Linked DNA regions of Homo sapiens. The protein of the gene in region 6 purifies or fractionates together with the protein of the main gene of each other region. This does not show direct contact. Each region holds a gene or a part of one and is shown on either strand. Other genes may lie near its edges.

Region 1 (4,147 bases), on a different chromosome or scaffold from region 6:
ATTGTTGTATGTGGTTATTACACAGAGAGTGAACAAAGTGGGGCTAGATTATTAAAGGCTTTGAAATTCCCACTAACAACTTTGGAACTGACACCGAAAGGCTGCAAAGATGTCTGAACAGATGTAAAATGATCAGACTTTTAGGTCAGAAATGACAGTCTATCAGCCATAGACAATCTATCAGCCGTATCAGTCATGCAAAGTTCTGGATCAGAGCTGGCAGACAGGAGGGTTAGAATCAGACTGCATGTGTCTGAATTTCAGTCCCACTATTTACCACAGGTATAATCTTGTGGGAGTTACTTAAATTCTCTCTGCCCCAGTTGCTCATCTGAAAAATGGGGATAATGTTAGTATTCCCATCCCCAAGATGGTTATGATGGTGAAATGAGAGAATACACAAGAAACGTGTAGTTCACTACTTTGTGTTTTTCTCTACAGCCATGACTGTCTCTCAGCTCCTTAAATACACCATGTTGGTGCCTGCCTCAGTGTCTTCACACATGCTTTCCCTCAACTGGAATGTTTTCTGTTCCCACTCCACTGGCCTGTGCCCAGCTAACTCCCACTCATCTTTCCAGTCTCAGCTTCACTGACAGCATTCTGCAGCGCCCAAGTTAGGTTATAGCTCCTTGCTCTGTGCTCCCCTAACAAAAGAGGAGTTGGTTTAACCAGGTTGTTTACTTGCTGGACATAACGTCTTCTCTACTCTACACTGGCGGGGCCACACCTGACTTGTTGACTGCTCTACCCCTAGCATCTGGCAGTGTCTAGAATGGGACAATGGCTCAGGGAGTATTTGCCAATTAGTTACTGACTGCTTGGCTGGGGTTGCTGTGGCTGGCACTTGGAAGGGAGGTTGGGAATAGAGCTGTAGATGCCCAAGGTGTACTACTTAAGAAAACAATGGATAAGACTGACCAGGGAAAGCATCAAAGAGAAAAGAAAGGCATTTGAATGCATACTTTAATAGAGTGGGGATAGCAATAAAAGCCAGCAAATGGTAAAAGTTATCAATGGGCTGGCAGAACAACCAGGATGGTACAGTGTAATCAAAGCCAACAATGGAGACTGTCACAGTGAGGAGGAATCACAGCTCAAAACTTGTAGGGTCTACGCAACACTAAAAAATGATTCCAACCACCATTTACCAAAAATTTAACAAACCCAAGATGCTTTATTTATATTGTTGGTAATTCTTACAACACTGTACAATTTTCATTCCCATTAAAAACCCCAAGAAGTCTGAGGCAAGGATCTGAACCCAAATCCATCAGATACTAAAGCTTATAATCTTAAAACGTGCATGTAACACAGTCAAAAAAAATAGTACTCTGTTTATCTATAAGGCATATGTATGCATACAGTACATATGCAATGCTTCTGTCGCATTAAAATTTCATGACGAGGGAGCATTTAGAAAAAGAATTTCTGAAAAGATTCCTTAAGGAGGCAATAATGAAAAAAAGGTTGAGAAATACTGTCTTAAAACTACAGTCTGCATCTTAGTAGAACTTGGAGTTCTAAAAGCACATTACTGGTGCAGCACTTTTATCGGTGTGGTTCTGTAATCAAAAATTCACCTTGAGCCTGCATGCGAGTTCTCACCAAAGCCAATGGGTAGCTGGCCAGCTGACCACAGGTGCTGGATAAGGCACCGCATCCCAGCAACACCATGACTCCAGGGTTTACAGAATCTTTTGCAAAATTATCCAGCCAATAGGACTTCAAGAGCTGCCAGAGAAATAAAGAAGAAAATAATTAACGAACTCTACAACTTCAACGTAAACATTTTCACAGCTATTCTCAACCTCATGAGAAGCCCCGTTTCTGCAGGATGAGGCCACGCATTTGCAGAAGCAGCAGGCACTGCAGGAGGCGGTGACTCTGTGGAGAGGTGGGAGGCCACTGGGGGTGCGGAACACATGAGGTTTGCACCGGTTACTGACATTCTTCTAAACAAACGTGAACTGCGCAGCAAACGCTGCAGGATCTAAAGAACACCTCTTATGGTGAGTATTAATAAAATAATATAATTCTACTAATTGTATCTCATTTTACACGTTACATATATTTCATTTGAGCCTTACAGAAACTCTTACATAAATCTATTATTCTGATTTTAGAAATGAGAAAAATTCATCTCAGCGGAGTTTTTGTTTGTTTTTTTGAGATGGAGTCTCGCTCTTGTCACCCAGGCTGTAGTGCAGTGGCCCAATCTCTGCCTCCCAGGTTCAAACGATTCTTCTGCCTCAGCCTCCTGAGTAGCTTGGATTACAGGCACCCACCACCACGCCCAGCTAATCTTTGTACTGTTAGTAGAGACAGGGTTTCACCATGCTGGCAAGGCTGATCTCAAACTCCTGACCTCAGGTGATCCGCCCGCCTCGGCCTCCCAAAGTGCTGAGATTATAGGCATGAGCCACCACACCAGGCCCAGAGTTTTTTTAAGAAGGACTCAGAACCAGGCGTGCTGATCAAAAGGCCATACTTTATCCCTGTTACTCTAGGTCCCTGTATTTCATTAGAAGGCAATAATTAGGAGAAACTGTATAAAATATATATGATAATCAACTTTTTAAACATAAGATACTTTAAGTATAAAATACATGTTAATATGTTATATAACAAGTTTAACTTTTTAATTTTTTAATCCTGTAAGACTAAAAATTTTAAATCCTACAGGATTAAAAAATTATCTCAATGGATTAAAAAATCCATTGAGTGCATTTCTCAATGGAAATCTTGCAGGTTAGAAGGAAATGGAATGTTATATTCTATGTTTTGAAACTTAAAAAAACTGCCAAACAAAAATACTGTATGGGCAAAACTGCCCTTCAAAAAAGGAGAAATTAAGACTGTCCCTGACAAACAAAAGCTGATACAGCTTATCACCACTAGACCGGCCCTACAAGAAAGGCTAAAAGGAGAAACAAAAGGATGATAAATAGCAACACAAAACCACAAAATATGAAACTCTATGGTAAAGGTCAATATTTAGAATATTATAAAATCCTATAGTATTGTAATGAAGGTATATAAATAACTTGAAAATCTAAATTTCAAAAACAAAATTTAAACAGAATTTAAAGAAGAAAAGCATAAAAAGTAACTATAAATCTATGTTAAGGATATACAATATCAAAAGACATAAAGTTTGTGGGGAGGAGGTGAAATATGTAAAGAAATAGAGTTTTATATACCACTGAAGTTAAGTTGTAAACAGCTTAAAATAAGTTGCTATAACTTTAGTATGCTTTATGTAGTTGCAATGGTAACCACAAAAATAGCATCTATAGAATGCACACAAAGGGAAATGAGAAGGGAATCAGAACATATCACTACAAAAAAAAAAAAAAATCAACAAAACACAGAAGAAGCCAGGAAGAGAGGAAGGGAAAAACAGAAAAGCCACAGGACAAAGATAAAAAGGTAGCTAGCCAAATGACAACAGTAAGTCCTTCCCTATCAGTAACTGCTTTAAATGTAAATGGATTAAATCCCCTAATTAAAAGATATAAATTGCTGAGTGAATAACACATACAGAATCAACTATACCTTATCTATGAGACTCACTTTAGATCTAAGGACACACATAAGCTGAAAGTGAAAGGATGGAAAAAGATATTCCATAAAAACGGGAACCCAAAGAGAAAAGGGGTGGCCATAATTACATCAGACAAAATAGACTTTAAGACACAAACTGTCACAAGAGACAAAGATGGACATTACATAATGATAAATGGGTCACTTTACCAGGAAGAAATTATAACTTCATATGGACCTAATATTAAGCTCCTAAATATATGAAGCAAACACTTACAGAACTGAAGGGAGGAATAAACAGCAACACAGCAATAGTAGTAGACCACCACCCCACTTAATGGTGTTGGGGAGGACATGGAGAAATTGGAATCTTGGTGTACATTGATAGAAATGTTAAAAAACAAAAAGGTCTAGTTACTATGGAAAATGACATGGAGGTTCCTCAAAAACTTAAAAATAGAATTACCATTTGACCCAGAAATTCCACTTCTGAGTATATGTCAAAAAGAACTGAAAACAGTATCTTGAAGAGATATTTGCACAACCATGTTCACTGCAGCACTATTCACAATAGTCAAGATGTAGAAACAATCCAAATGTC
Region 2 (4,841 bases), on a different chromosome or scaffold from region 6:
CAGACGTGACTGTGTTAAAATCATGCTACTGTCACTTATTAACTGTGGGACGTTGGGCAGATCACCTAACATCTCTGAGCCTCATTTCCTCACCAAAAAAAAGAAGAATCATAATATGGCACCTCCTCTAAAGCTGTTGTGAGGATTAACTCATGTAATGAATGTGAAGAGTTCTGCGCAGGCACGTGATAAACATCCAGAAACTGTTTATTCTGCTTGTTGTGCAGTCTTTAGGGCTTAAACAAAGTACTTTACACTGATTGCCTTACCTGACCCTCTCCAGGACTCTGGGTGCTAGGGCATTAACTACCCTTTGAAAGGTGAAAACATTGATGCCCATTGAGGTGAAATGATTTGTCTTCAGCCACAAGGGGCAGCATCAGGAGTAGAACCCAAGTGTTTGTGTTCTGATTCCCAAGACAGCTTATGACGTTTTGGAAACTCTGAATCTGATGGGTGACAGAAACTTGGGGATCATCTCTAGATAAGAAAGGGAGTTCCTTGAATGACTGTGAAGACGTTCACCGGAAAGGGAAGGAAAGGAAGTTAATCATGCTTCCTTCACAGGCCCTCCTTCACCCCCATCTAGTGGGCACATGCAAGCTACAAACAAGGTGAGGAATGAACAAATTAATACATACTCAATAGTGGCCAGTTCGAGGCAGATAATTAAATCAAGATGACCTGAAAGGATGTGACTGGCTGTGGCTAGTTTACACAGGGTGGTCAGGGACGGCCTCGCCATGGAGAGGGCTGGTGTTTTGGCTGAGACCTGAGAGACCAGAAGAAATCTGATGGCCAGAACCAATGTTTAGGTCCCTAAAGAGAACAAGCGTGGCGAGCAAAGGGGGCCAGTATGGGTGGAGATCAGCGAGGGAGGGGGGCAGAGATGAGTGCCCGAAGCACACAGTACCTTGGCATAGGGAGGGTTTGATTTTACCTACAAATGCCATTAAACCCACTAAGGATTTTAACAAAAACTACAATTACATTTTAATTTACATTTTATGTTTTATAGAGACAAGGTTCGGCTATACTGCCCAGGTTGATCTCGAACCCCTGGGTTCAAGCGATCCTCCCTACTCGGTCCCCCAAAGTGCTGGGATTACAAGCGTGAGCCGCTGCGCCCGGCCTTTTAATTTACATTTTAGCCTTCCGGTTACTGGAATCTTTGATGGGGAATGAGTTATAGTGAGGCAAGAGCCTCTAACATTCTAGGAGCTCTTTTCCCGTTCGGGGCCTCAATTTCCCGTTCTACAAAGGCGGGTGGGAGGGAACGGGGTCCCAAGTAGTACTGGATAAAGAGGTGGCCGATCGCAAACGCTGAGCACTTCAAAACTCTGGGCAGAGCGCTTCCGCGCCTCTCCTGCTATTTCACCCTGGCCACAGGCTAGCCGCCGAGGCCGGTCATCCGCTCTCTCCGCGGAGGAGTCAACGCCACGGAAGCAGCGGCGGAACCTCTCTAAGAATCCTTCCAGCTTGTGCTCTTCTGTCCAGGGCAGCCAATCGCGAGGAGGAGAGTAGTCAGAGGGCGGCACCCTCCCCGGTCTGGGCCGAGTTATTGGCTGGTGGTAGCGTCGCTCGCCCGGCAGTACCACGTGACGGCCTCGGCCGCGGGCGTTTACACTGGCTCTGCCTCCGGCATCTCTTCGCCGGTGCGTCCTCGCCGCGCCCGTAGGTCCCGGCAGCCGGGCCCCGCCTCCTTCGGAGTCCGAGCGATGGGCGGGGAAAGGGACAGGCAGGTATAGCTCTGTCGGCGCCGCGGTGTCCACCTCAGTCAGGCCACGGTGGAAGACGCGTGCCGCGGCGCCTGGTTGCCTGCAGCGGCCCGGACCCGAGAGGTGAGAAGAGGGAAGCGGACCAGGGAAGAGGGAGGGAGCGGTGCTGGCCGCCAAGCGGTCAGCGGGCCCCTCCCAGAGTCATTCTGCCTGGGTCCCCGCGCGGTAGAATCCCAGATCAGGGGTCGCCGCCGTGGAGCGGGGCGTGCGTCAGGTTATTTCCCGGGTGGTCCGGGGCCGGGCGAGTGGCACTGCACCCTGGTGATCCGGGCCTGCCCGTCTGGCTGGCGGCTGCCCACCCGCCCTCCATCCCGCGTATCTCGCCGTATCTCGCCGGGTGCCACGCACTCCGCTGCTTTTCCAGTCCTCGTTGATCCGTCTCGAACCTAGATATCTGGAATAGGGATCGAGGAGATAGGAGCCACCACCACCTCGGACAGATGGGGAAACTGAGGCCGGCACAGGCGAGACGGCTTGGTTATCTTGGTTATTAAAAATCACACACCCGATTAAGTACAAAATCAGGACCTGTTCTTTCGGACTCACACACTAAGTTGGTATTATTTCACTGGATGGATGGAAACACTGAGAAGACAGAGAGGGCCCAGAGCCTTGCCTAAAAATACACAGCAAGTCTTTTGCAGAGCTAGGACTTGTACCCAGCTCTCCAAACTCATAGACTATCAGCCTGGGCTCCTTCCTTGCACAGATTGGGGATCACAGTGAGTTAGAAACATTCAGAACTTAAATTGCCTTCCGGCGCCCATTCTAGTTAACCTGTCTTTTCTCCTTGTCCCCAACAGTTCTTTATGTGAAATCTACAACTAATGTGATATGCAATACTAGATTAAGCAGAACTTTTTGTTTTTGAAAATTGAATCAATAAGAAATGGAGGGCCAAAGCTGTGGGAAAGGAATGGACCCTTTAAAATCAGGAATCTCAAGGCAGGATATAGCAAGGGACAGAGACTAATAGCTGTCGTTTATTGAGTAAATGCTATGTGCCAGGCACTGTGGTAGGTAGTTGTGTTAGCCTTACAAACCAGCAAGTTAGGTAATGTTACCCCATTTTACAGGTCAGAAATTGATGCTGAGTACAGTGAAGTTTTACAAAACCATTGCCATATGACTGCTGAGCAGTATAGCTGGGATCTGAACAGAGATCTGTTTGACTTCCAGAACACATCCAGTGATTCTCCAAGTGTGGTCCTAAGCTCACTCGTTCAGCATCATCTAGCGTGTGGAGTCCTGGATCTCATCCTTGGATTTGCAGGGATGGTCCTAAGAAGCTAACGGCTCTCTGTATTTGACAATTATTGTACTGTAATGTGCTGCCTCCTAGGGGAAGATCTAGAGGTGAACATACTCTGGGCTAGGGGTAATTTTTGAGGGAAAAAAATCACTTTTTTTTAATTTCTGATTTGACTTTTTTTTTTTTTGAGACCAGGTCTTACTCTGTCATCCGGGCTAGGAGTGCAGGGGCGCGATCTAGGCTCACTGCAGCATTGACCTCGTGGGTTCAAGCAAACCTTCCACCTCAGCTTCCTGAGTAGCTGGAACCACAGGTGCACGCTGCCATACCTGGCTAGTTTTTGTAGTTTTTGTAGAGATGGTGTTTCACCATGTTGCCCAGTCAGGTTTCAAACTCCTGAGCTCAAGCAATCCTCCTGCCTTGGCCTTCCAAAGTGCTGGGATTACAGGCATGAGCCACTGTGCCCTGCCCACACTTTTATTTTTTATTTTCCCCCATGATTGACAGAAGGATAATCACGCTTTTAGTGAATGTAAACCCCCAGGCAGATGCTTGCCAAGCTTAATTTCTTGACATAAGCTTGGTTTTGGCATGTGGGGGCGGAAGAGTGGGGTTGGAGAGTTAAGTGAGAATGGGGAAAGTAACTCCTTTTTCCTTATCATATAGCTGTTAAATTCTAATTCACTCAACAGATACTTGCTAAGCATTTATTAGGTGCAAGACATGTTCAAGACACTGAGAATACAGCTTTGAACAAAACAGAGCAAGTCAGTGCCCTCATGTGAAAGACAATTAACAATGTGTGGTATGGAATGGTGAGAAGAGCTATGGAGAAAAATAAAGGGCATAGGAGTGCAAGGCAGGGCTGGGCCCAGGAGGAAGACATGGAAATGGCAGCAATGGCAGTGGTGCTATATTTATTTATTTATTTATTTATTTATTTATTTATTTATTTTTTGAGATGGAGTTTCACTCTTGTTGCCCAGGCTGGAGTGCGGTGGCGCCATCTTGGCTCACTGCAATCTCTGCCTCCTGGGTTCAAGTGATTCTCCTTTGTCAGCCTCCCAAGTAGCTGGGATTACAGGCACATGCCACCACGCCTGGCTAATTTTTTTTTTTTTCTTTTTTTGAGACAGAGTCTCACTTTGTCTCCAGGCCGGAGTGCAGTGGCGTGATCTTGGCTCACTGCAACCTCTGCCTCCCAGGTTCAGGTGATTCTCCTGCCTCAGCCTCCTGAGTAGCTGGGACCACAGGCATGTGCCACCACGTCCGGCTAATCTTTTTATTTTTAGTAGAGACGGGGTTTCACCATGTTGGCCAGGATGGTCTCAATTTCATGACCTCGTGATCCGCCTGCCTCCGCCTCCCAAAGTACTGGGATTACAAGCGTGAGCCACCGCGCCTGGCCTAATTTTTTGTATTTTTTAGTAGAGAGGGGGTTTCACCATGTTGGCCAGGCTGGTCTCGAACTCCTGGCCTCAGGTGATCCACCTGCCTTGGCCCCCCAAAGTGCTAGGATTACAGGCATGAGCCCCTGCACCCGGCCTGCTATTTTGCATATTTGTTTAACTTTTTTTTTTTTTTTTTTTTTTTTGTGGAGACAAGATCTTGCTATGTTACCCAGGCTGGTCTCGAACTCCTGGCCTCAAAGTGATCTTCCTGCCTTGGCCTCTCAAAGCGCTGGGATTACAGACATGAACCACTGTGCCTGGCCTCTGTTTTATATATTGTATCTAGGAAGGGACCGATTTATATAAGGTGTCATTTGAGGTTGGGCAATGAGCAAAGGCCCCAAGGGCAAAGGCTGCTTG
Region 3 (3,051 bases), on a different chromosome or scaffold from region 6:
CCTCAGAGCCAGTAAAGGTTTCTGCTGAAGCTGTGTTGTGAAATAAAGCAATTATCTGTTGCAGAGACAGCCTGTGTTGCAGAAGTATCCTCACTGAGTTTCAGCGCAGTCTGTCTGCCCTTTCTGTAGGCCAGAAGCCTTTTAAAAGGTCCCTGCGAGGTTCAGATGCTTTGAGTGAGACCAGCTCAGTCAGTCACATTGAAGACTTAGAAAAGGTGGAGCGCCTATCCAGTGGGCCGGAGCAGATCACCCTCGAGGCCAGCAGCACTGAGGGACACCCAGGGGCTCCCAGCCCTCAGCACACCGACCAGACCGAGGCCTTCCAGAAAGGGGTCCCACACCCAGAAGATGACCACTCACAGGTAGAAGGACCGGAGAGCTTAAGATGAGACTCATTGTGTGGTTTGAGACTGTACTGAGTATTGTTTCAGGGAAGATGAAGTTCTATTGGAAATGTGAACTGTGCCACATACTAATATAAATTACTGTTGTTTGTGCTTCACTGGGATTTTGGCACAAATATGTGCCTGAAAGGTAGGCTTTCTAGGAGGGGAGTCAGCTTGTCTAACTTCATGTACATGTAGAACCACGTTTGCTGTCCTACTACGACTTTTCCCTAAGTTACCATAAACACATTTTATTCACAAAAAACACTTCGAATTTCAAGTGTCTACCAGTAGCACCCTTGCTCTTTCTAAACATAAGCCTAAGTATATGAGGTTGCCCGTGGCAACTTTTTGGTAAAACAGCTTTTCATTAGCACTCTCCAGGTTCTCTGCAACACTTCACAGAGGCGAGACTGGCTGTATCCTTTGCTGTCGGTCTTTAGTACGATCAAGTTGCAATATACAGTGGGACTGCTAGACTTGAAGGAGAGCAGTGATTGTGGGATTGTAAATAAGAGCATCAGAAGCCCTCCCCAGCTACTGCTCTTCGTGGAGACTTAGTAAGGACTGTGTCTACTTGAGCTGTGGCAAGGCTGCTGTCTGGGACTGTCCTCTGCCACAAGGCCATTTCTCCCATTATATACCGTTTGTAAAGAGAAACTGTAAAGTCTCCTCCTGACCATATATTTTTAAATACTGGCAAAGCTTTTAAAATTGGCACACAAGTACAGACTGTGCTCATTTCTGTTTAGTATCTGAAAACCTGATAGATGCTACCCTTAAGAGCTTGCTCTTCCGTGTGCTACGTAGCACCCACCTGGTTAAAATCTGAAAACAAGTACCCCTTTGACCTGTCTCCCACTGAAGCTTCTACTGCCCTGGCAGCTCGCCTGGGCCCAACTCAGAAACAGGAGCCAGCAGAGCACTCTCTCACGCTGATCCAGCCGGGCACCCTGCTTAAGTCAGTAGAAGCTCGCTGGCACTGCCCGTTCCTACTTTTCCGAAGTACTGCGTCACTTTGTCGTAAGTAATGGCCCCTGTGCCTTCTTAATCCAGCAGTCAAGCTTTTGGGAGACCTGAAAATGGGAAAATTCACACTGGGTTTCTGGACTGTAGTATTGGAAGCCTTAGTTATAGTATATTAAGCCTATAATTATACTCTGATTTGATGGGATTTTTGACATTTACACTTGTCAAAATGCAGGGGGTTTTTTTTGGTGCAGATGATTAAACAGTCTTCCCTATTTGGTGCAATGAAGTATAGCAGATAAAATGGGGGAGGGGTAAATTATCACCTTCAAGAAAATTACATGTTTTTATATATATTTGGAATTGTTAAATTGGTTTTGCTGAAACATTTCACCCTTGAGATATTATTTGAATGTTGGTTTCAATAAAGGTTCTTGAAATTGTTACCAGTGAATTCAGTTTATAAATCTTATTACAAAAGACTTACCCACGTACCTGAAATAGCTGCCGATAGACCAGTGAGAGGTAGGTTCTCCTCTGCCCGTTATTACCGACCAAAAAAAAAACTGGACATCAATTTTTTAGTAAACCAAAAAATAAGTCTCAACAAATGCCTTTGCCAAAATAAGGTTTTATTTTGAAAGTCATTTGATGAAAGTCATTTGAAAGACACTGAGGAGGGAAGGAGGCCTAAGACCCAACAGATGTAGGATCCAGATCTGGATTCGTGCCAGCCCCACCAATGGTCTGTCAGGCCAAGAAGGTGCTTTCTTTGGTAATTCATGTTTTTTAACTTCCTGGAGAAGAGATCTTTTCCCACAAGCCATCTTCATTTTTTTTGTAGAGTAGGGCTTTATTTCCAGAAAACAGTGTGTGAGCTGGAGATGGGTGTTTTTTTAAAAACATCAAGGTAGATCTAATATGTTCAACAAAGTGGGGTGGCTCAGCCAGAGGCGAAGTGGAAAGATTCTGAAAACACAAGATGGTGGGCATTAGAGAAGCCAACCTTACTGTCCCCTGCTGTGATAAAGATGTCAAAGTATCTTTGTTCTTGGACACAAATATATATAATAAAATACGTTAAGAAATGAGGTGGCCTGAATTAGTAAGAAAAAAGTTGATTGCTTACTGCTTTACCCACACACATTTCCATCTAGGACTTGACATATCCCCATTTGATATACAAGTTAAATGGGGTCTGTCAATGGCATCCAAAAAGTTACTACCCGCCAAAGGGAAAGCAGCTATGACCTGGTCTAAACCCTTTTTTTCTTACAGATGGGGAAACCAGGGTGCAGAGATTTAAGACTTACCCAGCCTGTAAACTCTCACCTCTAGTATTTGCTTGTCATCTTGGTGCAACCAGAAATCCACATGTGGAAATGGTGTCCAGGAGTACGGTCCTATACGAAGTTGTTCTGTCTCTGCATCATAAATGCTAATCATCTAAAAAAGAACGTGTCAAGGATAGAATTTCAGGAATGTCACCCACTTTTCAAACCCTCCCAGTAACGCAAGCTCCAGTGTAGTCCTTTCATGCATTTATCTGCCTAAGCTTCTTAAAACCTGTCTCAAATAACAAAAGCTGCCAGCTACTGAACACGTCCAGTGTGTCTGCTTCTGCACACTGTGGGGCACGCACGACTGCTGAGCGCCAACAGCAGTCCCACAGGACGAGGGTGTTTTTTCCCATTTG
Region 4 (3,276 bases), on a different chromosome or scaffold from region 6:
GATGGAGTCTTTCTCTGTCGGCAGGCTAGCGTGCAGTGGCGTGATCTTGGCTCACTGCAACCTCCGCCTCCCGGGTTCAAGCAATTCCCCTGCCTCAGCCTCCCAAGTAGCTGGGACTACAGGCGCATGCCACCACGCCAGGCTAATTTTTTTGTATTTTAGTAGAGATGGGGTTTCACTATGTTGGCCAGGAAGGTTTCCATCTTCTGACCTCATGATCCGCCCACCTCAGCCTCACAAAGTGTTGGGATTACAGGCGTGAGCCACCGTGCCCGGCCACAAGATGCATTTTTCACACCTGCCACTTTGCCTCATCTGTCACCTTCACAGCTCCTAAGGGAGTCGGAGCTTGTGCCACCACCGCTACAGAGGATTAAGGGGTTTCCCTCTGGGGGCTCCAGAATATGCAAGCCAGGGTGTTTTTGGCTGCTTGAGCAAAGGATAAGACCTGCACTTCCCTGCTGGGTCCTCAGCCCTGAACATGGCAACCGACTGCTCCATGAGCTGCTGACTGCGGGTTTCTGAATGCGGGGCGGGGACGCCGTGCCTCCCTTTCCTGCTCACCTGTGTTTTCTGTACAAGCCCGTAACAGTAGTCAAATAAGGGAAACCAAAAAAAGGTATGTGAAAAATACAAGGGCCAAATTATATAGCTTTGGTTTTTGTGGAAACTCACTCTGAAAGAAAAATTGTCAATATTGAGAAAAAGGCTTCAGAGGCAAACTTCTGAGGGGCATTTTTTATTATAAATTTAATATGGTTGATTAATGAAAAATGACAATGAAGTACCAAGAAAATGTTTGTCAATATAAAAATTTTAGCAGCATTTCCATAGTTTCAGGCTCCAACATTAGTCGTACTTCCTCCCTCCCGCTATCAAAAAAAGAAGAGACTCCAATGGGATGGAGTAGAGCCTGGGGGTGTCCAGCTTTGTGTGGGCCTCAGAGAAATACTCCATCCAGCATCCAGGATTCTCCCTCCCTCTCATCCCTGAAGTGCTAGAATGTCAAAGCACAGAAAAAGCCTCCTTTGTGCTGACATTGGAGACAAGGATCCGTTCTTCAGGCTGCAGGGAGAATTGGGATAGAAACTGACTCTGGACTTGACATGTAGTGCTCAGCCACACGCCCTCACCAACACCTGTGCATTCTCTACTCTGATGACAAGGAAAGGCCACTGCAAGGTGGGTGGGATCTGGGGTGTGGTGGCGGTGGCACTGCTGGTGGGAGCCACGGCGTGGCGCATGCTGGGTGACGGTGTCACCGCCACACACTGCTCTGGGGCAGGCGTGATCAGTGAGGGTGGGAGACAGACAATGTGAAAACGTAACACTGGCCAATGATTCCCCTGCTTCTTTGGTACTTTCCAAAATTCTCTGATCAAAAAAGTATAAGGGAAGCACACCATTAAAAAATTACAGTTTTACGTATTTACAAAAGCAATGATGATATATTACACAACAATCAATACACAGTATATGAACAAATCTTCAGTGAAAGCACTTGTGAGCTCCCGTCCCGCTGTCATCCCACAGCACGCGACCTCTGCAGGGTCAGGTTGCCTGTTCTGAAGCTCATTACCTTACAGTATATTAGAAGGCAAAAACATCATTTGGAAAAAAAATCATTTTCCAATCTACACTTTCCTTTTAGAAGGCTTAACATTTGCCATCGAAATAGTTATGTACAAGATTTATTGAATATTGACTTCTAGGCAATGATCTCCACTCCCAACTTGAATATGTTTGAAATAATGCTGCCTATTCTATGGATACAATAGATATTTAATATATAAGTAACTGCACCACATTATATCACCACGATACCAGTTTAATACATATTATTATGTACAGTAGTTAAGTTAGCTCGGGAAGGTGAGTCTCCGCAGCCTGGGTGAACAGTGTGGGATGGAGCCTCCTGGAAGGGAGGCAGAGAGCTGGTCATGAGAGAGCCGTGCACGGCCAGGATGTGTATGTGCGGCACGAGCACACATGTCTCCCACACGCCAACACCAGACCATCCCTTTAGCTGTTTGCAGCTGGAAGAAGACAAATCACACATATGGAAGGATCCCATACATGAGAAGAGCCATGACAGCAGCGCTGAACAGCCCAGCCACAGGGACGGTCACGAACCAGGCCACGAAGATGTTCCGAAAGAGGCGCCAGTCCACAGCCTTGCGGGAGCGGATCCAGCCCACGGCCACCACCGAGCCCACCTGTGGGAGCAGACATTGCAAAGTAAAAACAGGTGAGCCACAAAGGCTACACTCTACCAATGTACATGGGCTAATCTCAGAAACAAGCTCTAGTACAACATTACCCAGTCCCCTACATTTGTTAAAGCTTTTAAAATAGCTTAGATTTTAGGTAGAATTGTTTGGGGATTCTTCTCTTCAGCATATAGCTCTTTATATAGTTGTTTTATATAGTTGTTTTGAGACAGTCTCACTCTTCACCCAGGCTGGAGTGCAGTGGTGTGATCTCAGCTTACTGCAACCTCCATCTCCCAGGTTCAAGCAATTCTCCTGCCTCAGCCTCCTGAGCAGCTGAGATTACAGGCGCATGCCATCACCCTTGGCTAATTTTCATATTTTTAGTAGAGACGGGGTTTCACCATGTTGGCCACGCTGATGTGGAACTCCTCACCTCAAGTGACCCTCCCTCCTTGGCCTCCCAAAGTGCTGGAGTACAGTGGTGCAATCTCAGCTCACTGCAAGCTATGTCTCCCAGGTTCAAGCGATTCTCCTGTCTCAGCCTCCTGAGTAGGTGGGATTACAGGCAAGCACCACCACATCCAGCTAATTTTCATATTTTTTAGTAGAGATGGGGTTTCGCCATGTTGGTCAGGCTGGTCTCAAACTCCTGGCCTCAAGTGATCGGCCCGCCTCAGCCTCCCAAAGTGCTGGGATTACAGGCGTGAGCCACTGTGCCCAGGTTGGATTTTGGCTTTAAAAATAATATTCCCGGCCGTGCGCGGTGGCTTCCGCCTGTAATCCCAGCACTTTGGGAGGCTGAGGTGGGCGGATCACGAGGTCAGGAGATGGAGACCATCCTGGCTAACACGGTGAAACCCCGTCTCTACTAAGAATACCAAAAATTAGCCAGGCGTGGTGGCAGGCGCCTGTAGTCCCAGCTACTTGGGAGGCTGAGGCGGGAGAATGGCGTGAACCTGGGAGGCGGAGCTTGCATTGAGCTTGCAGTGAGCGGAGATCATGCCACTGCACTCCAACCTGGGCGACAGAGAGAGACTCTGTCTCAAAAAAAAAAAAAAAAAAA
Region 5 (4,147 bases), on a different chromosome or scaffold from region 6:
GGCCTTATTAAAAAAAAATAGTGGCTTCATTTACTGAGCAAAGCCCCATTCTAGGGGTTTACACATATTTATTTCTCCTCCTCACAATGGCCCTTCAAGGTGGGTGTTATCCTAGTTTTACAGGTGAAAGAACAGACTCAGAGGGACTTGCCCCAAACGGACAACAACAGAGAAGAGATTCGAATTTAGATTTGCTCTCTCCCAGGGCCTTGGACTCTTTCTGCCACCTCAGGCGTCTGTCTGGACACTGTAGCCCAGAACACATACAGATGGCATAAAGAATCCCACAAAGTTTTAAGTGTCAATACTGAGAAAACAGCAAGCAGACCACCAACTCCAGGCCTGAGACTTCTGGTCCCTTCCTGCTGTCTCACTCTGATATTAGCAGACCTAGTGAGCTTTGGAGACTCCTTCTGCCAAGAGATTCTGTGAGTGTGGCCTGAGCTATCTGAGGGTGAAAGGAAGGAAAGGCTTTCCCTTCCAGCACTGTTTGCTTTTCTGTTTAATAGGCACAGTAACAACCAGTTCCTGATAATATTCAGAGCACTTTGCAGTCCTCTGCTGGAAGTCCCTAGGAAAAATACAAAGCCCCGCAATTATCAAATGACTCACTTCCAGGTGCATAACACAGTGGGACACTCACTGCCTGGGAAGAGGGGCTCAGCTTGGAAGCAACCCTGGGCTGCTACTGCTTTCTCTCCCTTCTAGGTCATTTCCCTGAAGCTGATGCAGGAGTCCCCCCAACTCTCGCCCCCTCCTCCTGTATCAAAGCAGCAGGGAAGGTGTTGTCATTATTTTGGCCCTGCCCGCTAGTGCAAAACCATGTGCTCATAACATACTGTTCTCATGGGAGCCGGCTTCAATAGCCTCTTAGCAGCAGCCGGGGGACCCGCCTGAAGTTTACGAACGCGTCCTTTGTTTGCTGAGACTTTGTTCCAAAGTTCCCAAGGAGGCAGGGGTGCAGCATGCCTGGGCTGGAGGGTAGGAGAGCAGGGGCTGCCTGGGTCCTACCCCTGTGTGCTGCCCCAAAATGTCCCTAATGTACCCATGCCGCTTCCTGACATTTCACCCCAACACATGCCTACCTGCCAGTGTCAAGAGAGCCCTCACTCCCTTTTTTGCAGAGAAGGCTTTCCATTCCTTTTATCTCAAATAGCCCAGGCCACACTCACAGAATCTTGGTAGAAGGAGTCTCATAAGTTCATTAGGTTTTACTCCCTGCTTCATGCCCACATTTCATCTAGATTGTCACCTACCCTTCCCTAAACAGTCCGGGTGAGGAAAGTCCATAGGTACATGTCTAATGTTTCACAGATACCAGGTCACTGAGCAGCACAGCTCGTGGCTTCATGGGAAGAGTATAGGCTTGAAAGTCAGATAGGTTTGGATTCAGATCCTGGCTCTATGATGTTGGTGAGTGGCCTCACCTCTGTGCCTCAGTTGCCTTATCTGTAAAATGGAGATAAGTGCCTGCCTCAGAGGTTTGATGTGAGAATGATACATGTAAAGCTTTATTGTGCAATGCTTAAGCCTCAATAAATGGGATGCAGTGGTTGTAATTCATTAAACCCTCCCATGGTGTGTCAGGGCCCTGAGGCTTGTCCAGTTTTTTCCTGAAAGAAGAATTACTTCTCTGCTCCTTCTCTTACTCTGTAATCCTCTGTTTATTTCTACAAGAAGCTTGAGCAAGAAGGGAGGTGTCCACGGCAAGGCAGCTGAGGGTCAGAAAACGTGTCAGGGTTCATTCCTGGGCCATTTTCTAAACGTTGGCAGTGAGTCTGCCTGCAGTTACATGAAGGCCAGTCCAGACCAAACGGGGCTGCAACCGTCTCTGTCTCCAGGGCTACGTCTGGAAGGGATTTTGCTGGAAGGGATTTTCCAAGGCACTTACACTGTTAGCACTTTGTTTTTCTGACTGCAGTGCCCCTCCCAGGAAGAAAGAATGTAGAAGTTACTTTATCCAGAGCTTTCCACTTCACTCCAGGAATTTCAAATTCCTGCTCCTGGGAGTAAAGGCAGTGAGGTTCTTTTCCCAATCCTAACTCCATTCATGTATTCAGCAAGCATTCATTATAGCAACTACCCTCTTCCAAAGCTGGGTACTCAGAACCTAATGGAAGAGCTGTCAGTGTCAATGATGCCAGATTGGAGGGAGTAAGGGAGGGTGCTGCTGACCTTCCTAGGTCTCCAAACTTCCTCCTCTTCCTCTGTGTCAGCCCCTGGGGCCTTTAGAAGAAGACAAGGAGGTGGAGGAGACAACTTAGTCATACTCCCCAGGCTTCTGGAGGAGCTGCAGGGATGTTGTTCACCCACTTCTTCCCAGAGGACTCCTTAACATGCAACCATGACGATTTAACAAATCAAAAAGGAGACATGACCGCAGCACCAGTACCAGTGCCAACAGCAGTATCATTTACCAAGCACTGCCGAGTGACTGTGAGATGGTCCACAAGGCCATAAATTGGACACTATTGCCATAGCAAGTTGTAGAGCCAAGATTCAAACCCAGGCCTTCTGATTCCAGAGTTTGACTCCTTAGCAATGGTTCTCTAAGCCTCTGCAAACTGTTAAGCTCTTCTTAGCTGATGAGCTTTGGGCTGTTTCTTTCTCGGTGACAGTAGGAGTGGAAATGAGCCTGTGTGAACTTGACACTATCAGTGGCTGCTTGCTGCCCACCTCAGTCTGACTGACGCACATATGAGTCATGGGTCCATGCATTCAGCAGGCATTATTTGGACACCTACTGGGTGCCAGCACAGCCTCGGTGGAGCACCCGCATCACACCTTATTGCTCCGTCCCTGTGACTAGAAAATGATGTCATAGTAGGGTTGTTTTGTGCAATCCGTAGAGAGTGTGACTCTGAGTAGTCATAGGTACTTCTGGGAGCAATTTTGCTAACTGTTCCTAGCCTTACCATGTGGGCCCTCTGCTCTCCAGAGAGGAGGAGGACTGGTTTGCTCTGACTAACTGGTGTGGGAGGGCTGGCAGAGGCCCGGCTCTATTGTTCAGCCCAGATCCTTGCAGCAGAGCACAAGCAAAGACGCTCTTAATTTTTTTTACAGCTGGGCTGGCCTCCCCTTTGTCTTTGTGTCTGTTACTGTTCCCCTTTATTGAGATGAAAGGGGTTTTTAGATCTTTGCAGGGAGAGTGTGTGTGTGCGTGCATGTGTGTATGTGTGTGTGTGTGTGTGTGTGTGCATGCGTGCAGGAGGCCCACAGCGCTTCTCTTCCTCTCCCCTCCCCGCTCTCCCCAGCCCAGCTGGGGCCCAGGCTTTGTGTCAGGTACCGCCTAAGCCGCAGGGGGACTCGGGTAGAAGAACAGTCTGGGATTTCTTTCACTGTGTGGGGCCTAGAATCTCAGGAAGCCAGGACGTGGGTAAGAGACCAGTGGGGTGGGGAGGCTGAGGTGGGGAACAAGCCTTTCCGAGGTCGTGGACAAGGCCTTGGGGGGTTCATCCTCCCCCATCTCCTAGAGGCAGAGTGTCTTTCTAAGCTGGGCTCTCTTTGTTCCCATCCAGGGGTCAAACAGAAGGTGGCTGCTGGGTGCTGGCCCTTTATTTAATTCCATCCATCCTAGTTTCTCAGTGAAAGGGGGAAAGTGGAAGGGGGCGGGGAGTGGCCAAGGGAGGGCTTTGTTCCCTCCTTGTTTTCCTTTGTGTTTACTCCCGGTTCTGTTCCAGTCCCTTCCCCTTTCCATTGAGTCAGTGTGTCTGCTATTGTGCAGAGCCTGCGTCTAAGCGTGCAGCCTCCCCTCCCTGTCCCACTGAGAAAGTGTGGTTTTGCCTGAACGTTTGTGGCTCTGCTTGGAGGCAGGGGGTGTGTAGATCATGGGGTGGAGAGAGAGAAAGGGGACGACTCTTGGGAACTCTGGCATGTCCTGCCCCAAGGTGGGTATTCATGCTCTCTCCAAACCAGCACCCTTGTGGGTGAGATGCGGCCACAGGGCTAGGGGAAATTCGGAGGAATACGAGCCCAGACCAAGCCAATGTAGGACAACGGGAAGTGGTGAGGGCGCATTGCTGTCACTGTGATTCACGCATAGAAACCGGAGATGGGAATCCTGGAGGCTGAGGGAGACCTTCCCCTGCAGGCTGGCTGTGGGAGAGGCATCCTTCCTGCAAGTGGTGGGCATTTGTGGGGAACTGTC
Region 6 (4,712 bases):
ACACTTCCCTGATCACATGTAACTCAGGAGCCAAAACTCTGTTGGAGGAATTCACGTGATTGTCTTAGAGTTGTGGCTAAAAACACAGTGAGTTCATGCTCATTGTTTTAAAAAATAACACTATGGCTGGGTGCGGTAGGTCACTCCTGTAATCTCAGCCATTTGGAAGGCTGAGGCAGGTGGATTGCTTGAGCCCAGGAGTTCAAGACCAGCCTGGGCAACATAGCAAAACCACATCTCTTAAAAATAAATAAATACATGTGTGCTGGTGCACACATGTAGTTCTAGCTACTCAGGAGGCTGAACTGGGAAGATAATCTGAGCCTGGAGAGGTCAAGGCTGCAGTGTGCCAAGATTGTGCCACTACACTCCAGGCTGGATGACAGAGTGAGACCCTATCTCAAAAATAAATTAAAGAGGCCAGGCATGGTGTCTCACGCCTATAATCCCAGCACTTTGGGAGGCTGAGATGGGCAGATCACCTGAAGTCAGGAGTTCGAGACCAGCCTGGCCAACATGGTGACACCCCATCTCTACTAAAAATAACAAAAATTAGCCAGGCGTGGTAGCACATGCCCATAATCCCAGCTACTCGGGAGGTTGAGGCATGATAATCACTTGAACCTGGGAGGCAGAGGTTGCAGTGAGCTGAGATTGCACCATTGCACTCCAGCCTGGGCAACAGAGTGAGACTGTGTCTCAAAAAGAAAGAGAAGAGAGGAGAAGAGAAGAGAAGAGGGGAGGAGAGGGGAGGGGAGCGAAGGGGAGGTGACAAAGGAGGGGAGGGGAGGGGAGAAGAGAAGAAAACAAGAAGAAAAGAAAAGAAAAAAGACACTATGGACAGAAGACAATATGACTAAGGGAAAAATCTGACCCTTGGAAGGGTCAGAAGAATCACTGGAAGAATCACCCGACATTGTGTATGACGTTGGTCTTAGGTCCCACTCCAAGAGCGGCCTCTGACTTCTGTTGTTTCTTCCAAATGAATAAAACCATGGTTCTATAAGATGTGAGCTGTCCCCAGAAGAACAAAGACTGGGGTTGTCACATTTAGCAAATAAAGATACAGGGTGCCCAGTCAAATTTGCATTTCAAATCAATGAAGAATTGCTTAGTATAAGTATGTCTCATGCAATATTAGAGACATACTCATACTTTTAAAAACTCTTCATTGACCTAAAATGCAAATTTGACTGGGCACCCTGTAATTTCCCTGGCAACCCTTCCCAAAAGCAGACTATTTGGATCTCATCCACTAAAAAGGGCAGAAACTCCTCAAGAGGCCACCACACTTCCCAGAGCCCAGTCTCCTTCCTAAAAGGAAGACAAATAGGTCCAATAGATCCCACTCTGGCCCCCCCTGCCCCCAGATGCCCCCCTAATACACCCCTCTCCCTGCTCCTATTCAGTCCACCCTCTCCTGCCCTTTATAACCACTTGGAGAAATTCCACTGACACAAGGAATCCTTGGAGGGTTAATCCTTCTGATACCAAGTCACACTTTAACTCATTCCCTCCAGGCCAAGGATTAAAAACTGCCCATGCAAGGGTCAGGTCTCCAGCAGACCCTGAAAGCTGAGCTGCCCTGACCCCCAAAGTGAGGAGAAGCTGCAAGGGAAAAGGGAGGGACAGATCAGGGAGACCGGGGAAGAAGGAGGAGCAGCCAAGGAGGCTGCTGTCCCCCCACAGAGCAGCTCGGACTCAGCTCCCGGAGCAACCCAGCTGCGGAGGCAACGGCAGTGCTGCTCCTCCAGCGAAGGACAGCAGGCAGGCAGACAGACAGAGGTCCTGGGACTGGAAGGCCTCAGCCCCCAGCCACTGGGCTGGGCCTGGCCCAATGGCCTTTAATGACCTCCTGCAGCAGGTGGGGGGTGTCGGCCGCTTCCAGCAGATCCAGGTCACCCTGGTGGTCCTCCCCCTGCTCCTGATGGCTTCTCACAACACCCTGCAGAACTTCACTGCTGCCATCCCTACCCACCACTGCCGCCCGCCTGCCGATGCCAACCTCAGCAAGAACGGGGGGCTGGAGGTCTGGCTGCCCCGGGACAGGCAGGGGCAGCCTGAGTCCTGCCTCCGCTTCACCTCCCCGCAGTGGGGACTGCCCTTTCTCAATGGCACAGAAGCCAATGGCACAGGGGCCACAGAGCCCTGCACCGATGGCTGGATCTATGACAACAGCACCTTCCCATCTACCATCGTGACTGAGGTGAGCACCTGGGGCTCCCCATCCAGGGGCCAAGATGGGAAGATGGGGGCCTTTGTTAAAAAAAAAAAAAAAGTACATGGAGAAATTAACTGCTGAGTTTTTTAACTGCTGAGTTAAAAAGAAAAATGCTCTCAGCTGTCAGGACCAGAGAGGCAAAGGGCAAAGTGCCGGAGGAAGAGGGTGACATGGACCCCAGAGGACCAGCTGAAGTGGGGGAAGGGGATTCTCTGAAGCCAGGCTCATCTCTGCCTGACCCTTGCTCCTCTCCCCACAGTGGGACCTTGTGTGCTCTCACAGGGCCCTACGCCAGCTGGCCCAGTCCTTGTACATGGTGGGGGTGCTGCTCGGAGCCATGGTGTTCGGCTACCTTGCAGACAGGTCAGTCCTGGGTAGGGTCAAGGGGCTGGGCTGGGCTGGGATTAGGGGCTCAGCTGGGCTCAGGGTGTCTAGGTGGGAGCTTGGCATTGCCAGCCGGCGCTGGTTTGAGGATCTACAGCACCAGCCTCATACTTCAGAGGTCCTCAAAAGGCCCCAGCCCAGGCATCATCCAGGGTGAGCCCTCCTCTCCTGGCTCAGCCTGACCCCCATCAGTCTCCAGGGCCCTGCTACAAGTCTCCCCTCCTCCCACAGGCTAGGCCGCCGGAAGGTACTCATCTTGAACTACCTGCAGACAGCTGTGTCAGGGACCTGCGCAGCCTTCGCACCCAACTTCCCCATCTACTGCGCCTTCCGGCTCCTCTCGGGCATGGCTCTGGCTGGCATCTCCCTCAACTGCATGACACTGAGTGAGAGATTCTTACCAGCCCACTCCCCTCCGGCCACCCAGCCCAGCAACCCCTTTCCAGCCTCCCCTCCCAGCCTGCCCCTCCTGAGCCCTGCCTGCCCTCCAGCCTCTCTCGGGTCTCACCTTCCTGCCAATAGAACAACCTTTTCTCAGGCTCATGCCGCCCTGACCCCTCATTTAAAAACAGGATTGCGGGCCAGGCGCAGTGGCTCACACCTGTAATCCCAGCACTTTCGGAGGCCGAGGCGGGCAGATCACGAGGTCAGGAGATCGAGACCATCCTGGCTAACATGGTGAAACCCCGTCTCTACTAAAAATACAAAAAATTAGCCAGGTGTGATGGCAGGCGCCTGTAGTCCCAGCTACTCGGGAGGCTGAGGCAGGAGAATGGCGTGAACCCGGGAGGCGGAGCTTTCAGTGAGCGGAGATTGCGCCACTGCACTCCAGCCTGGGCAATAGAGCGAGACTCTGTCTCAAAAAAAAAAAAAAAGCAGGATTGCAAACTCCATTGTTAGAGCCAGCAGATCATGTAAGACGGCCAGGTGCAGGAGGCATTAGGGAATGGTGAGAACTGTATTCAAAGGAGAGACACCTTCATCCAGAGACACTACAGGCATGCAGCTGCTCCAGGCAGGAGATCCTAGGGCTGTCATAGCTTCCCCCTCCTCTTTGATTAATGTAAAATAACCCAGTTTTTTTTCATGTTTGCAATTAACTCTAATAATAAACATAGGATGAGGCAGCATCGTGCAGACAAGACACATTTGTGGACTGAGTGTGGTCTCTCCATGGGCCATTGATGAGCATCCTCTGATGGATCAACCCCCGCTTACCCCATGTTTCCCAAATGAGGAATCCAAGGCCAAGAAGAAGGGAAAGGATTTACCCAAGGGCATTCCTCAACCACAGAAGGGAATCCAGGGATTTGGGATTCTCTGGACTAGAGGAATTAACCGGGACTGGGCTAGAGCCTGGGCAAGACACCTAAGAAATCCAACCCCCAAGTCCAGCCTAAGTATCCAAGTCCCTGTCCCAGCAGCCCAATGGGGAGCCCACCTGGACAGGAGGTAGGCCTCTCCAGACCACACCAGAGAGGTGGTCCCACTCCTACTTCAAGACTCCAGGATGGAGAAAAGCCACTGCCTCCTCCAAGATGCTCTGGCCACTGAGAGTGGAATCCAGCCCATAGCTGAGGAAGACCAGAGGAATGGTTGCTGCTGAAGACAGACCAAGTGGCCAGAGGTGCTCTCAATGGAGAAGGAACTCTAGCCAGGAGAATAGGTTGAGGAGGAGCAGAAAAAAAAAAAAAATCAAGAGTGTGGAGGGGGCAGTTCCCAGATATTCTGAACCCAGCTCCTCATCCATACCTCCACTGAAATTCCCCCACTCCCATCACCCTGGCACTCAACTTACTCGATGCATTTTCCACTGAGCCTTGGGACAGGCCAAGGTTTGGATGGAGGGAGGGGCCTTTACTAGCCCAGCAGCCCAGGTAGTTGCAGCATCCTGTCTTAACCCTCTTTCCAGATGTGGAGTGGATGCCCATTCACACACGGGCCTGCGTGGGCACCTTGATTGGCTATGTCTACAGCCTGGGCCAGTTCCTCCTGGCTGGTGTGGCCTACGCTGTGCCCCACTGGCGCCACCTGCAGCTACTGGTCTCTGCGCCTTTTTTTGCCTTCTTCATCTACTCCTGGTGCGTGGGGCCTAGGGTTGGAGGTG
Region 7 (4,147 bases), on a different chromosome or scaffold from region 6:
CGCCTGGGTTCAAGTTCTCACTCTGCCACTTAATAACTTGGACTTTGGCCTGTTTCTTAACATCCCTGTACTTGAGTTGCTTCATCTCTAACAAAAGGATAATAAAAACATTTACTTGCTTCTCTAGTTGAATCTATGGATAGGTGTATCTAATTATACTTTTTCTAGAGAATTCTCTAGACCCGGAGAATTAACATGTTTTATATTATGTGAATGGGTAATTGTTTACAGTTAATTAGTAATTGGTAATATTCTGGTATTTAAAACTTGTGTCAAACTTAGAGATGCCTAATGACTGTATAAAAATGATCCTTTTGATTATACAGTAACCCCAGGCCATCATTGAGTAGTTTCTTTAGTTTTCTTCCTACTGTAATATCAGTTCCTTGTATTTATTCAAAGGCTAGCTAATTTGATTTTGGTTTAGTGTATATCTTAAGATATTAGTAGAAACTGAAAATATGTCTTGTGGTGGTTATTCTCTTATAATTTTATTTTATTCTTAGTTTCTGTACTATAAAGAAATGCTGGCTGGGTGCAGTGGCTCACACCTATAATCCCAGCGCTTTGGGAGACTGAGGCAGGAGGATCACTTGAGCCCAGGAGTTTGAGACCAGCCTGGGCGACATGGCAAAACCCTGTCTCTACTAAAAATGAAAAAAATTTAGTTGGGCTTGGTGGCGTGCATTGTAGTCCCAGCTACGCAGGAGGCTGAGGCGGGAGGATTGCTGGAGCCCAGGAAGTCAAGGCTGCAGTGAGCCGTGATTGCGCCACTGCACTCCAGCCTGGGCGATGGAGTGAGACCCTATCTCAAAAAAAAAAAAAGGAAAAAGAAAAATGCTACTTTTCCATAATTGATAAAAGGATGTTAACGATTTTAAGGAATATTTAACTAAGTCACCAATTCATTTTTTTAAACATCTGTGTTGCCCATCTTATGCTTGCTGAGAACTTGTTTTACCGAGTATAAATATGTTGCTTTCATTGGTTCTTTTAAAAATTTTTTTTGTTAGACATTAAGTTGTATGTAACATTACATTTCAGATTAAATGTTTTTATTTTTTATTTGTTTGAGACAGGTTCTTGCTCTGTTGCCCAGGCTGGAGTGCAGTAGCACAATCATGGCTCACTGCAGCCTTGACTTCCTGGGCTCATATGATCCTCCTGCCTCAGCCTCCTGAACAGCTGGGACCCACAGGTGCATACCACCATGCCCAGTTAATTTTTAAATTTTTTGTAGAGACAGGGTCTGGCTCTCTTGACCAGACTGGTCGCGAACTCCCAGACTCAAGTTCGAGACTGTTCTTGAACTCCCACACTCAAGCAGTCCTCCTTCGTCAGCCTCCCAAAGTGCTGAGATTACAGGTGTGAGCCACCACATCCAGCTAAATTTCAGGTTAAATGTGTTTAATAGAAGAATATATTTGGCAGTAGTTTTGTTGCTACTGAATTGATAAAAAGTTTTTTTTGTATTCTAGACAACCAGATGTTCCAATATTTTATTACAGTTGTGCCAACAAAACTACATACATATAAAATATCAGCAGACACCCATCAGTTTTCTGTGACAGAAAGGGTAAGTTGAATCCAACCGGTAAAATAATTTGGTGATTTTTTTAAAAAAGCATTTTAAAGTTTCCTGGCTACAAAATAAGGTGGTGTTTTACTTGGTGTCTTCCCTCATTTAAAAATCTGTGGAAGTTTTGAAATGAATTAACATTTTATTTTAAATCAGAAATATGTCAGAAATGAATATTAGTATATTCTAAAGCAATAAAAGTAGATATTTAAAAAATCTGAAAGGTTTTCTATTGCATTAAGACTTAAAATTGTTAAATTGTGATGGCCTTAATTATTTTATTCTTAATGTCTTAATTTTATAAATGTTTTCTCATAAATTGATATAAGCAGTTCTTGATCTGGCAGCAGATTCTTTGAATTCTGTTACTTATTTATTAATAAATGTACTACCTTCTCTGGGCATACATGGTTATCATGGATTAGATAGCAAATTTAGAGGGTTTGCCTTCCTAAATTAATGCTTTGTATTCATCTGATTGTGATGAAGAACATTCCACTACCTCAGGGTGGTATGGCCATATAAGTAAATACTGACAGTGATGAGCAAAGTTTTGGAATTGGACAGTTTAATAGATTTCTTATCTACTTTGGGGTCATGTTTTCTTATTTTTGTGTTTGAATGGTGAATTCAAACACTTGTATCCAGAAGAATTCTAAGGCAAAATTTAAGTGCTTTAAAAATTTTGCTTTCCTTTATATAGTGTTTTCTTTTACTAGCCTTATAACTCATGATGACCATGCCCTCAATAATTGTGGAATTTTTTTTTTTGTTCTTATGAGATTAGGTATTGGAGTTTTTAGGGGTGAAGTGTCATGTGTCTATAGCTTTTCACTTGGCTTGGGAGAAAGTACAAGTTCATATAACTGCATATATATGTATAGGTATGTGTGTATATACACTCACACAAAGAAACTAGGTAAAGTTTATACCAGAACATATTGTGCTTTTCAACATTTCTTTAAGGAGTAGGGAGATTCCATTTCTCACCTGTAAGATTGGCAAACACCTCAAGGCAATACATACAGTTGAGAAGACTTTGGGGAAAATAGGCAAACATGCAGTGCTATGGGGATGCAAAGTGGCATAATCTTTGAGGAAGGTAGTTTAGCAGTATCTGCAAAAGGACCTATGCATTTATCCTTTGACTCAGCAATTGCACTTCGAGAAAGCTATTCCAAAGATACGGTGGGCAAAAATATAAAAATGTGTGTTTCAGGCTATTCGTTGCATTGTTATCTGTAATAGTAGAAGATTAGAAACAACCCAGATGGTACATCTACACACACTGGAGGAAGATGCAATTGTTAAAAATCAAATGAGAAGGATTTCTATATACTGATAGGAAAATATCTCCAGGGTATATTTTTAAAATAACAAAGCCAAAAATACATATGTAATAGAATCCCAGGGCATTTGACTGTTGAAGGATGTGTTTATACTGATAGGGTGACTAAAATAGTTTTTTAACTTAAAAAAGAATGGAGTAACTGGGGTTGGTAAAATGCAGGATAGGGGGTGGGAGGGAGAGGGCTGACATTCATTAGTCCTGGAACCCAAAGTGAATCATTATTAGTCTTTCATTATGTATATGCCCTGATCCCTAAAACAGTTTCTACCCTTATAGGTAGTGACAATATATTTATAACTCAGCATGATATTGAGCATTTTAGAGCTTTAAGATGTAGTCACTTTATTGGAAACTTGATCAGTTGGCTTATAAGGCTGTATTGTGCTAGTAATAGGGAAAGAGTTTTGTAATGCCCTACGTAAAACTGTTTTAATTTCCCTTGGTAGTAGTTAACCTCATTATTTGTATTCCTAAAGCTTGCAGTTTAGTTATAGCATGAGGAACATGCCATACATATTTGTAAGCTCTTGAGCTCAGTAGAAAACTTGTATCTAAGGTGACCTTTTTGAGAAAAAAAGAATGATTCTGCTCTTTTGATAGTTTCAAAAGCTAACCACACAAAGAATACAAAATAATTTGTCTCTGAAGAGCTTAGTCTAGTAGGACAGTTCATAAGGAAATGTGGATGTCCTTCTTTTACAGTAGGGCTTCAGGGCTTAATATTGAATGTATGTAAGTAACCAGATGACATGAATTCTGTTTCTCTCTTCCTCCTATTTCTCCCCTTCCTTTTGCCTCCCTTTTAGGAACGTATCATTAACCATGCTGCAGGCAGCCATGGAGTCTCTGGGATATTTATGAAATATGATCTCAGTTCTCTTATGGTGACAGTTACTGAGGAGCACATGCCATTCTGGCAGTTTTTTGTAAGACTCTGTGGTATTGTTGGAGGAATCTTTTCAACAACAGGTTAACAACCATTTCCTTTTTGTCTAATTTCTGAAAGTGTTGCTTATACTTAAGTTGCTTCTTCTCAAAGGGGCAAGAAGTATACAGATTTTCATGTTTCGGTGTTTAAATAGCTTTTGCTTTAATTACAAAACTCCAAAATTATATTGACTAACCAGTAAACATAACTAATTTCATTGTATTCAATGATGTAAGGTAGATTATATAATGGTGAGTTGGAAAGATCCTGGGTGTTAACATCAGATTGA

Evidence for each region.
Region 1: the proteins of SLC22A6 (region 6) and SLC25A24 purify together in Homo sapiens (affinity purification with mass spectrometry; 2 studies listed by BioGRID and IntAct, with this or other methods). This does not show direct contact.
Region 2: the proteins of SLC22A6 (region 6) and SLC26A2 purify together in Homo sapiens (affinity purification with mass spectrometry; 2 studies listed by BioGRID and IntAct, with this or other methods). This does not show direct contact.
Region 3: the proteins of SLC22A6 (region 6) and PDXDC1 purify together in Homo sapiens (affinity purification with mass spectrometry; 2 studies listed by BioGRID and IntAct, with this or other methods). This does not show direct contact.
Region 4: the proteins of SLC22A6 (region 6) and SLC20A2 purify together in Homo sapiens (affinity purification with mass spectrometry; 2 studies listed by BioGRID and IntAct, with this or other methods). This does not show direct contact.
Region 5: the proteins of SLC22A6 (region 6) and ITPRIP purify together in Homo sapiens (affinity purification with mass spectrometry; one large-scale study listed by BioGRID and IntAct). This does not show direct contact.
Region 7: the proteins of SLC22A6 (region 6) and ERGIC2 purify together in Homo sapiens (affinity purification with mass spectrometry; 2 studies listed by BioGRID and IntAct, with this or other methods). This does not show direct contact.

Annotation. Positions count from the first base shown.
Region 1 is NC_000001.11:108,137,475-108,141,621, forward strand, and holds part of SLC25A24 (mitochondrial adenyl nucleotide antiporter SLC25A24), read right to left. Parts: intron 1,735-4,147; coding exon 1,584-1,734; intron 1-1,583. UniProt on the Homo sapiens protein: Electroneutral antiporter that mediates the transport of adenyl nucleotides through the inner mitochondrial membrane. Originally identified as an ATP-magnesium/inorganic phosphate antiporter, it also acts as a broad specificity adenyl nucleotide antiporter.
Region 2 is NC_000005.10:149,959,139-149,963,979, forward strand, and holds the start of SLC26A2 (sulfate transporter), read left to right. Parts: upstream 1-1,619; 5' UTR 1,620-1,841; intron 1,842-4,841. UniProt on the Homo sapiens protein: Sulfate transporter which mediates sulfate uptake into chondrocytes in order to maintain adequate sulfation of proteoglycans which is needed for cartilage development.
Region 3 is NC_000016.10:15,035,887-15,038,937, forward strand, and holds the end of PDXDC1 (pyridoxal-dependent decarboxylase domain-containing protein 1), read left to right. Parts: intron 1-64; coding exon of another isoform or gene 65-129; coding exon 130-389; 3' UTR 390-2,144; coding exon of another isoform or gene 2,145-2,324; 3' UTR 2,325-2,446; downstream 2,447-3,051. Other genes in the region: NTAN1 (protein N-terminal asparagine amidohydrolase), read right to left, coding at 2,145-2,324, 2,688-2,801.
Region 4 is NC_000008.11:42,415,752-42,419,027, forward strand, and holds the end of SLC20A2 (sodium-dependent phosphate transporter 2), read right to left. Parts: intron 2,217-3,276; coding exon 2,052-2,216; 3' UTR 724-2,051; downstream 1-723. UniProt on the Homo sapiens protein: Sodium-phosphate symporter which preferentially transports the monovalent form of phosphate with a stoichiometry of two sodium ions per phosphate ion.
Region 5 is NC_000010.11:104,328,094-104,332,240, reverse strand, and holds part of ITPRIP (inositol 1,4,5-trisphosphate receptor-interacting protein precursor), read left to right. Parts: intron 1-3,248; exon of another isoform or gene 3,249-3,376; intron 3,377-3,983; exon of another isoform or gene 3,984-3,985; coding exon of another isoform or gene 3,986-3,987; intron 3,988-4,147. UniProt on the Homo sapiens protein: Enhances Ca(2+)-mediated inhibition of inositol 1,4,5-triphosphate receptor (ITPR) Ca(2+) release.
Region 6 is NC_000011.10:62,981,816-62,986,527, reverse strand, and holds the start of SLC22A6 (solute carrier family 22 member 6), read left to right. Parts: upstream 1-1,560; 5' UTR 1,561-1,837; coding exon 1,838-2,206; intron 2,207-2,480; coding exon 2,481-2,584; intron 2,585-2,836; coding exon 2,837-2,991; intron 2,992-4,517; coding exon 4,518-4,686; intron 4,687-4,712. UniProt on the Homo sapiens protein: Secondary active transporter that functions as a Na(+)-independent organic anion (OA)/dicarboxylate antiporter where the uptake of one molecule of OA into the cell is coupled with an efflux of one molecule of intracellular dicarboxylate such as 2-oxoglutarate or glutarate.
Region 7 is NC_000012.12:29,342,872-29,347,018, reverse strand, and holds part of ERGIC2 (endoplasmic reticulum-Golgi intermediate compartment protein 2), read left to right. Parts: intron 1-1,478; coding exon 1,479-1,576; intron 1,577-3,736; coding exon 3,737-3,899; intron 3,900-4,147. UniProt on the Homo sapiens protein: Possible role in transport between endoplasmic reticulum and Golgi.